2 linked regions of the Homo sapiens genome follow. The protein of the gene in region 2 purifies or fractionates together with the protein of the main gene of each other region. This does not show direct contact. Each region holds a gene or a part of one and is shown on either strand. Other genes may lie near its edges.

Region 1 (3,898 bases), on a different chromosome or scaffold from region 2:
AAAAACAGACAAGGCACCAGGCGCGGTGGCTCACACCTGTAATCCCAGCACTTTGGGAGGCCGAGGCAGGCGATTACGAGGTCAAGAGATCAAGACCATCCTGGCCGACATGGTGAAACCCTGTCTCTACTAAAAATATAAAAATTAGCTGGGCATGGTGGCACGTGCCTGTAGTCCCAGCTACTCTGGAGGCTGAAGCAGGAGAATCACTTGAACCCAGGAGGTGGAAGTTGCAGTGAGCCAAGATCACACCACTGCACTCCAGCCTGGCAACACAGCGAGACTCTGTCTCAAATAAAAGAAAAAAAACAGGCAAGGTGCAGTTCCTCATATTAGCACATGCTCACAAAAAAATAACTATAGTCTTCAGATGACAGGAAAGTATTGAAGTTTCAAATAATGTGTAATTCAGGTTTCTGGAACTGATAAACTGCTCAGAAAAGAACAGTTTGTCTTCTTATTATAGGTAAGATCTTCCATCACTCAAACATAGTCAATGATCTGCTAAGGGCAAATTCTTAGGAATACCCCTGCTTTATACGCTAGTCATATTAATGTCAGACTTTTTGTATAGACGTATTTTAATAGCTTATGGGAACTACAATGAGGTTCTTCATTAGTTTAAATTCTTAGCCTTTGGGAAGGCACAGATCCTTATGAGATCCTAATGAAAGTTTTGGAGACTATCCCTAGAATAATCCACATATGAACATACATTAAATCCTGCATTTTGTTTCAAGGAGTTCATGAACCCTTAATACACATTTATAAATCACAAGAATACCTATTCTATAGGAATGCTACTTTTCAGATGGAAAAGGCAGCAGTTCTGACTTTGTACTGAGAGAGCAGGCATTTCAAACTGGTTTTTGTTTGTTTGTTTGTCTGTTTATTTTTGGTGGGACTGATGGATGAATTTTCACTGATTCATCCATTCTCTCATCTAGGTCTTCTTTTTATCAATGTCATATTGTCTATGACCATGTAATAGAACAAAGCTAAAAGAGTATCTGGAAATTAAATTTATCAAATTTACCCTCATTAAAACTATGCTCCAAAAAACGAGCTACCTATTCACAATTGGAGATACAGTACAAATGTAACATTGGTGTTTATTTACAACCCATACCCCATTATCGCCTAGTCATATCTGGTGCCAACAAACTAAATCCAGAGATAAGAATGCTGCAAAAGTTTTCTTGTACCCAGTGTATACAGATATCAGTATGAGTACAATGATGACTAATCTACCTAAGAGATCTCCATACGGAAATGACTCCCATATCTGAATAGTACCAAATCCTCAGACTTGAACTTCTTTCAATAATGACATAAACCTCTCATAGAATCACAAGTGTATGAGGCCATCTGGTGGATAAAATACGAAACACACAAATTCTTAGCTAGTTGAAAGCAGAGTTCAGGTCTCCTCATGACCAGGTCAATATACTGTTTACTAAACCATGCAGCCTCCTCAGAGATTAAGGGTGTGATTCTATTGCTATAACACACCTGAAATGGACCCTATTATTTTAAATATTCCTTCAAAACAAAAAAAGTTCACAGCCACAAAAATCTGGCTGACCTGAACTCTGCCTTCAACTAGCTTAAAATTTGTGTTCCTGTATTTTATCCACCAGAATAAAATGGCACCAAGAAAGTGTCCCAGATTTTCAAAATAACCATCAGATGTAACTGGTCTGGAGAGCTATATCCCTTGTTATGACAGGAACCACACATTAGTCATCTCTGCAACGTCCTCATAACCAAAGACATTCCTGACAAACAGCACGTGCTCAGAAATTATAACCTGAATTAAAACAAATCATATGACACAACCCTTACTGCCCTCCAAATAAATTTACACAGCCTTAAATTCTGCTCAGGTACCTTTAGTGGGTGCAGGTTGTAAACTGATAATTGGTTGCTGCTTTGCCAATGGCATAAGCGTTGGTACTGTCTGAATAATGATGGTTTTTGCTGGAACACTGGAGTTTGTTTGAGTCTTGGGTGCTGCTGGAAGCAATAAAGGCTTGGGCTGAATTGAAGGTTTTGAATTCACCTGAATTTTTTTCTTTGGAGTCAGTCCATTTTCTGGAGAAAAACCAGACAAACCACAAGTCAATGTGAAAGCAATTACGCAAGCCCTAAAAAACAGATTCTATCACACACCTTTCTCTACACATTATCTTAACTTCGATTAACAATCTTTAACTGGAGTTTAAGCATAGCTACAGTACATATACCTGAATGAACTGAAGAAAAGTACTTAAACTGTTACCTCCTTTTCTAACCAAGCTGCAGTTTTGGGAATGGGACACACTAACTGGTAAAGGAGAATTGCTAAAATCACGGGATAACACCCAGAGATTAATGAGGTAACAAATGTCATAGCTCCATTCAGTTATCTTTAACTGAAACTTTGAAATCTCTCCTGAAGATGGTGGGGTCTGAGTCTATTTTAAAGTATCTTTCACCTGTAAAGACAGAGACAACCAAAGATTATTTCTCCCCTTTCCTCTCCACGGTAATCACTCACAACAAACAATATAGGTCCACCAATTAAAAAACAGCAAGCCAGCCTAATAAACATAAATTTAATCCAGCATTTTCTTTTAAGAAATGGAACCTAAGCTCAATCTGAAATAGAAATAACAGAAGTTAGGAGATAGAGTAATACCAGTCTTGTTCCTAGGACCAGTGACAGGCTTATCTTCCTTCAGTGGCTCCGCTGAAGAGAGACTATTAGAGTTTTCACCATATAAGGAAAGGGGAGACATCTGAGAACTAGAAGACAAATCCAACTCCTCCTGTAGCATAATAAAAACAAAAATTAATGAGTATAATCCTTAAGCAGCAAATTGCATAGAAAAGGAGGAGACCCACATATAAACAGAAAAACACTTCAGGGTAACTTCAAAGGAAAGGTATATTAGAAACTGTATATATATATTAAGTAATAAGTGACTATCAGCATGATCCATCTATACCAAAGGAAAAATAACTCAAAATGCAGAGTAAGTCTATGCCATCCTGTTAAAGATATGAATCATTGATCTGTTGCTACATTTCTTCCTACAAACTACACACACACACACACACACACACACAGAGACACACACACACACACAGAGACACACACACACACACACACATATAAAACTTGGTTCGTAGTCATACAAACATTCAGTATCAGTATAAGGTTGCAGTTAAAATGCCAATATCCTTTCTCCATAATCTCTCTTATTTGGTCTTAAAAGAATATCAAAAGCAAAATAATTTTATTTGTATTCTTTTCTGTTTTCTATTTTGTAATACTGCCTTTGTTCCAAATGTTGTAAAAGAAAGATGCATGAATGGAGCAGTGCTTTGTTGTTGTTGTTGTTGTTGTTGTTGTTGTTGTTGTTGAGACAGAGTCTCACTCTGTTGCCCAAGCTGGAGTGCAGTGACGCAATCTCAGCTCACTGCAACCTCTGCCTCCCCAGTTCAAGCAATTCTCCTGCCTTAGCCTCCCGAGTAGCTACAACCACAGATGTGTGCCACCACGCCTTGCTAAGTTTTTGTATTTCTGGTAGAGAGGGGGTTTCACCATGTTGGCTGGGCTGCTCTAAAACTCCTGACCTCATATGGTCCACCCACCTCAGCCTCCCAACGTGCTGGGATTACAGGCGTGAACCACCCCACCCAGCCAACAGTGCTATTTTCTTTAATTTAGTAGGTGAATTCATAATGATTGAGATACATAAAGATAACATTCGCATTTTCCCAAAGTCTTTTAATATTCAGTGAATCTATCTCATTTTGTTAGAATAAAGAAACAACATAGAAGTAGCAATTCAATTCAGACAGAAAAGATGGCATGCATGATCACGCAATAGACATAATCTCTACTTCATAA
Region 2 (5,576 bases):
AAAAAAATAGTCATTTCTAAGTGTATTCTTACCTAGATGTATATGTAAATATGAAATGCAGAACTTTAAATTTTTAGAAAAAAATATGGAATATTTTATTTTTCCAATCTTAGATTAAGGAAGAAATCCTTAAAAATATATAAAAGCAAATACATAATGAAGATTGATAAACCGAATGATATTGAGGTTAAAAACCTATGTTAATCAAAAGATCGCACCACTGCACTCCAGCCTGGGCAACAGAGCGAGACTCCATCACTAAAAAAAAAAAAAAAAAAAAAAGGAAGTCAAATCTTGGGTAAGGGGGAACTACTGTACTTACATTTACCCATTTATTATAAAGGCAATTACAAAGGACACAGATGAATTAACCCGATGGAAGGAGATGTACAAGGTGAGACAAAGAAGGAGAGAAGAGGAGAAGGGGCGTGGAGCTTCAGTGTTCAGCTATCTGAGAGCTCACAGAACTCAGTCCTTTTGGGCTTCTATGGAAGTTCATTAAATAGGCAAGATTGATTAGATCACTAGTCATTGGTTTATGGACTCAAGTTTCAGCTTCTTTCTTCCCAGAAGTGGCGGCTGGGGGTAGGAATCAAAGTTATAACCCTTAATCACTGGGCTGATTCCCCTGGCTACCTAGCCCCCATCCTGAAGCTATCTAGGGGCCCCCAGGCACCAGTCATCTGATTATTGTACAAAACAGTCATCACTCCAGAGATTCCAAGGATTTTAGAAGCTATGTCAGAAAATGGGACAAAGACCAAATATTAATATTTTTTTTATGATATCACAGATGGGAAAGACAAACTAGAAAAACTTGCTTTAACTCTTCATTTAACACCTCTCTGTAGGGTTTGGCTTTTTAAAATCCATGTTCATATATTTTTGATAAAAGCATACTTATTATAAGTTTAGTTTAAAAGCAAAAGTTTAATTTTGTGTTAATACTTAGAATACCAGGTTTTTTTTCAACCTAAAATGAGAATCCAATAGAAATGTTTTCTTTATAATTTATCAAGTATACCAACAGATTAACAACATTTCAAGACACTTTGTTGTAAACTTCATTGCGGAAGGCTCCCTTGGGAGTAAGGTAGTAGTAACATTTATTTCTGTGCTTTTCCATATTTATTCTGTCAGGTATTGAAATGTTTTTCCACAGGTTGCTTTTTGTTTTAGAGGTATTTCGGGTACTTGGAGAATTGTAAATATTATGTTTTGTACCCTGATTTTTAGTCATAAGTTTCCAAAAGAGGGTAAGGGTATGAATAGACTTTACACATAAAAGAGTGAAACACTTTGTTATGTAACATGTATAGTAAGTTTTTATTTTTTCTTTTGTTTTTATTTGCCTGTTTTTGGTAATCCAAATTGAAAAGGCCTGAACTCTTTCATGAGTTGAGTTCATATATAGTTTCAAAGTTCCTGAATTGATTTGGATACCTGCCTCTTTTTGGCTACCTTGAAAACTCTAGTGAACTCTCTTAATCACTGGAGAATTGGACTGAGATCTCTGAGTTGTGATTTCAGTAAATTCTGTTCTCAAAATTTTTTATAAAGCAGCATTTATATACAGTCTTGATTACTTGTGCAAGTCACTTCCAAATCCTAATGAGAAACTGTCTCTGGACTTTTATATTTTCTTAGACCTACAGTTTAAATACCAAGAAAGGCTTTCATGTCTAATGTAAAAATGCAGTGAAACTTTGATATTATTCTGCAAAGGCCATGAGAAAGATGATTACTTTGGAGACTTGTTACTTAGGATATTGGTTTTTAAAATGAGAGCAGATTCTTCCCAAATTCCATAGGTAGGAACGTGACTATAAAAGGAAAATCTATGAACCCCATATACCTACAAACTTTGGGTAGGAATTAAAACAAACATATACTATTCTTGAAATGTTAACTCACTATTACATCTTGGGGGGTGTGATTTTAATCAGGATAGAGTATTGTCAGATTGTTACTTGCTGGGATACATCCAAATTTTGAGGTTGTAGTCTTACTACATTATTTGTCTATCTGATGCCTTCCCCTTTTTTTCTTTGATACATTTGCATAAAGCAAAATGGCACTTTTTCACTAGAAATGTTTCTAAAACCCAAATAATTTCTTCATTTGTGTGTAGTAAAAACAAGCTTCAGGAAAAAAGTTATTAGAATTTTAAAAATTAGTTATAAAATTATGGCAAAGCTCATGAATAGTTACTGAAGATTAATTTACTACTTTGTGAATAGCAAGTTGACAAAAATAATTTACAGTTCCTGCTTGACTTTCTCCCCTCTAAGTGGCATAAAGTAGAACTAGAGTTATTTTGTTTTGGTTTTGACCCAACTTAGAAGATTTGTTTTAAAGTTTCTGAAGTTTTGTCTCAGGAAAATAAGGTGGTTTTCCATGTAGAGAATGTAAGATTACATATGGCATCTGGTAGGCTGAATTAATTCCATTTTCTTGTTACCTTCCATGGAAGAAGTTTCTAATAAAAAAATCTTTTCAGGGCCGAGCGCAGTGGCTCACGCCTATAATCGCAGTAGTTTGGGAGGCCGAAGCGGGTGGATCACCTGAGGTCAGGAGTTTGAGACCAGCCTGACCAACGTGGAAAAACCCTGTCTCTACTGAAAATGCAAAATTAGCTGGGAGTGGTGGTACATACCTGTAATCCCAGCTTCTTGGGAGGCTGAAGCAGAAGAATCGCTTGAACCTGGGAGGCAGAGGTTGCAGTGAGCCAAGATCACGCCATTGCACTCCAGCCTGGGCAACAGGAGCGAAACTCCATTAAAAAAAATATAAAAAAAAATATATATATATATAATATATATATATTATTTAAATATATATATATTTAAAAATATATATATTAAAAATATATATATATATTTAAATATATATATATTTAAAAATATATCTATTAAAAATATATATATATTATTTAAATATATATATATTTAAAAATATATATATTAAAAATATATATATTTAAAAGAGCCTGTTCTGAGCTCACAACTCTTTGGGGGATTATTAGTGGCCCATTTTCTTGGGGAATCAGGTGGTTTGTATTTAGAGGTTTATATGTCTTCTACTTTATTGTGTCCTTTTGTTTTCCTTTTCACAGATGACTTGACATTTTGGCACAGAATACATTTTAAATCCCTGGACAGAGTCATCACTTAAATGAACTAGCCCTTGCTTATATGTGCAGTGGATTGTGAAATGCGTCTACTGTAATAATATGCAATGTCTTGATTACCTGCTGAAATAAGGTGGATAGATGGATTTTTATTTTATTTAATATTTATTTATTTATGTATTTTGAGACAGGGTCTCACTGTCACCCAGGCTGGCATGCAGTGGTGCGATCTCAGCTAACTGCAATGCCTCCCGGGTTCAAGCGATTCTCCCACCTCAACCCCCTGAGTAGCTGGGAGTACAGGCACGTGCTACCACCCTGGCATATTTTTATATTTTTGGTAGAGACAGGGTTTCACCATGTTGACATGGTCTTGAACTCCTGGCCTCAAGTGATCCACCCGCCTCAGCCTCCCAAAGTGCTGGGATTACCATTGTGAGCCACCACACCCAGCCAAGATGGATTTTTAATTTGGAGTTTGTCACTTTTTCTGTACTCCAGGGTATGGTTTCTCATTGTCTGAAACATAGATTTTATTTTTCAAGCAGGCTATATTTTGTGGTTGCCTTTAAAAACATCCAGATGTGACAGACATTTCCTAATGAATACTAATTGTACTTATTTTGTACAAAATATTGTAGAATCCATAGATGGACAGGGTAGGATCTTTGCTTTCTGTTATAGATACATGTGTAATAGGGTAGATTATACTTAGATAACTGCAGACTACAATATCAGGTGATATATGAGTGTTAAATGTTTCACTAAGTTCTGCAGGTATGCTGAAAGAACAGTTTCTATCAAAGAAAGTAGGTTTCTAGGATAGGTAGGATTTGAATAGTCAGGGATTGGGAGGTTGGGGACATCATTCCAAGCAAAAAGAATGTAAACACTGCTGTAGCTATAGTGGAGAAAGGAATGTGTTTGGGGAATCCAAGTCTGGAGCACTGATGTGTGTGTGTTAGGAGGAATATTACTGTAAAGCAAATTGGGTTCTTGAATGCCAGGAGCAAGAATGTAGATTTTAGTTGATAGTAATTTCAGAGCCGCTGAAGTATTTTGAGCAGGGAATGAAGAAAGGCAATTTGGTGATGGCTTGTAAATGGATTTGGACAAGATGAGGGTTTTTTGAGACAGACTGATTGATTGGTGTCACAGAAAAGGGAGATAGAGGTGTTAGAAGAATTTGGCAACTAATTGGCAAAGTTTGAGCATGTGGGGCTGGGTTGGGAGTATCTCTAAAAGAACAATAATGGTACCTTCAACTGAAATAGCAAATCACAAGGAAAAGCTGATTCTAGTTTAAGGCAAGTCGAGTTTCAGAACTTTGGAGATTTGCAGTTGTAGGAGTGAAAGTAGGTGAGTATTCAGATGTCATTCCCATTGTTGAAACCTTGGATAATAATGTGTTTATTGTAATCCTACTTAAAATATGCATTTCTGTCAGAGTACAAAGAAAGATGGTGTCTATGGAGTGGGGGAAGGAGAATTACCATTTTCTAAAAACATGTCTTGGTTTTCTGAGTGTTACTTTTGTAATGTGAAGAACAATAAAAAGAGTTGACTATTTTAAGAAACAGATTCAGCATTATACAGGAAAAAGGGAACTTGGAAGATGTTTCTAAGTCCGAAGGAAACTAGGAGGAAAAAAAATGGAATTTTGGACCCTTTGGAGAATGCTCAGAGTTAAGGAGTAGGAAATAAGAGCTGGCATGAGTTCACAGTTTGAAGAAAAGGAGGAATTAAGTGGAAGTATAAAACTTGAACTTGATTTCCTAAAGAATCCTTTAAAAAAAAATCTAAAACTTGGCTGGGTGCGGTGGCTCACGCCTGTAATCCCAGCACTTTGGGAGGCAAGGCGGGCGGATCACTTGACGTCAGGAGTTAGAGACCAGTCTGGCCAACATGGTGAAACCCCGTCTCTACTAAAAATACAAAAATTAGCTGGGCATGGTGGCAGGTGCCTGTAATCCCAGTTACTTGGGAGGCTGGGGCAGGAGAATTGCTTGAGCCTGGGAGGCAGAATTTGCAGTGAGCTGAGATTGCACCAGTGCACTCCATCCTGGGCAACAGAGTGAGACTCTTGTCTCAGTCAGTCAATAATAAATGAATCTAAAACTTAATAGGAATAAATGTTTTCCATTTGGGTTATTTTTAACCCAATTTTTAAAATTAATTTTAATGATTATGAAATGATAAAAGACATATTCTTTTGAGTTTTAAAACTTGTTAAAATGTATGTACCACTACAAATTCATCTTGAAAATAATTTAGTAATTTGGTGCCTTGGACAGCTACAGTGTTACTTGAAATACTTTGGAAATTAGAAAGTAAGGAATGAAATTTTAAAGAATAATTTAGTATGTTTGGTCTGTTCTCCTGAACTCTGACTTTACAAAACCTTTATTACCCTTTAAGCCTTAGTTGTCTTGAGGCTTAATGTTCA

Evidence for each region. The genes of interacting proteins can lie anywhere in the genome.
Region 1: the proteins of RNF139 (region 2) and ATF6 purify together in Homo sapiens (affinity purification with mass spectrometry, with the first as the bait; one large-scale study listed by BioGRID). This does not show direct contact.

What each region holds. Positions count from the first base shown.
Region 1 is NC_000001.11:161,790,320-161,794,217, reverse strand, and holds part of ATF6 (cyclic AMP-dependent transcription factor ATF-6 alpha), read right to left. Parts: intron 2,811-3,898; coding exon 2,681-2,810; intron 2,095-2,680; coding exon 1,891-2,094; intron 1-1,890.
Region 2 is NC_000008.11:124,480,145-124,485,720, forward strand, and holds part of RNF139 (E3 ubiquitin-protein ligase RNF139), read left to right. Parts: intron 1-3,115; exon of another isoform or gene 3,116-3,263; intron 3,264-5,576. UniProt on the Homo sapiens protein: E3-ubiquitin ligase; acts as a negative regulator of cell proliferation through mechanisms involving G2/M arrest and cell death.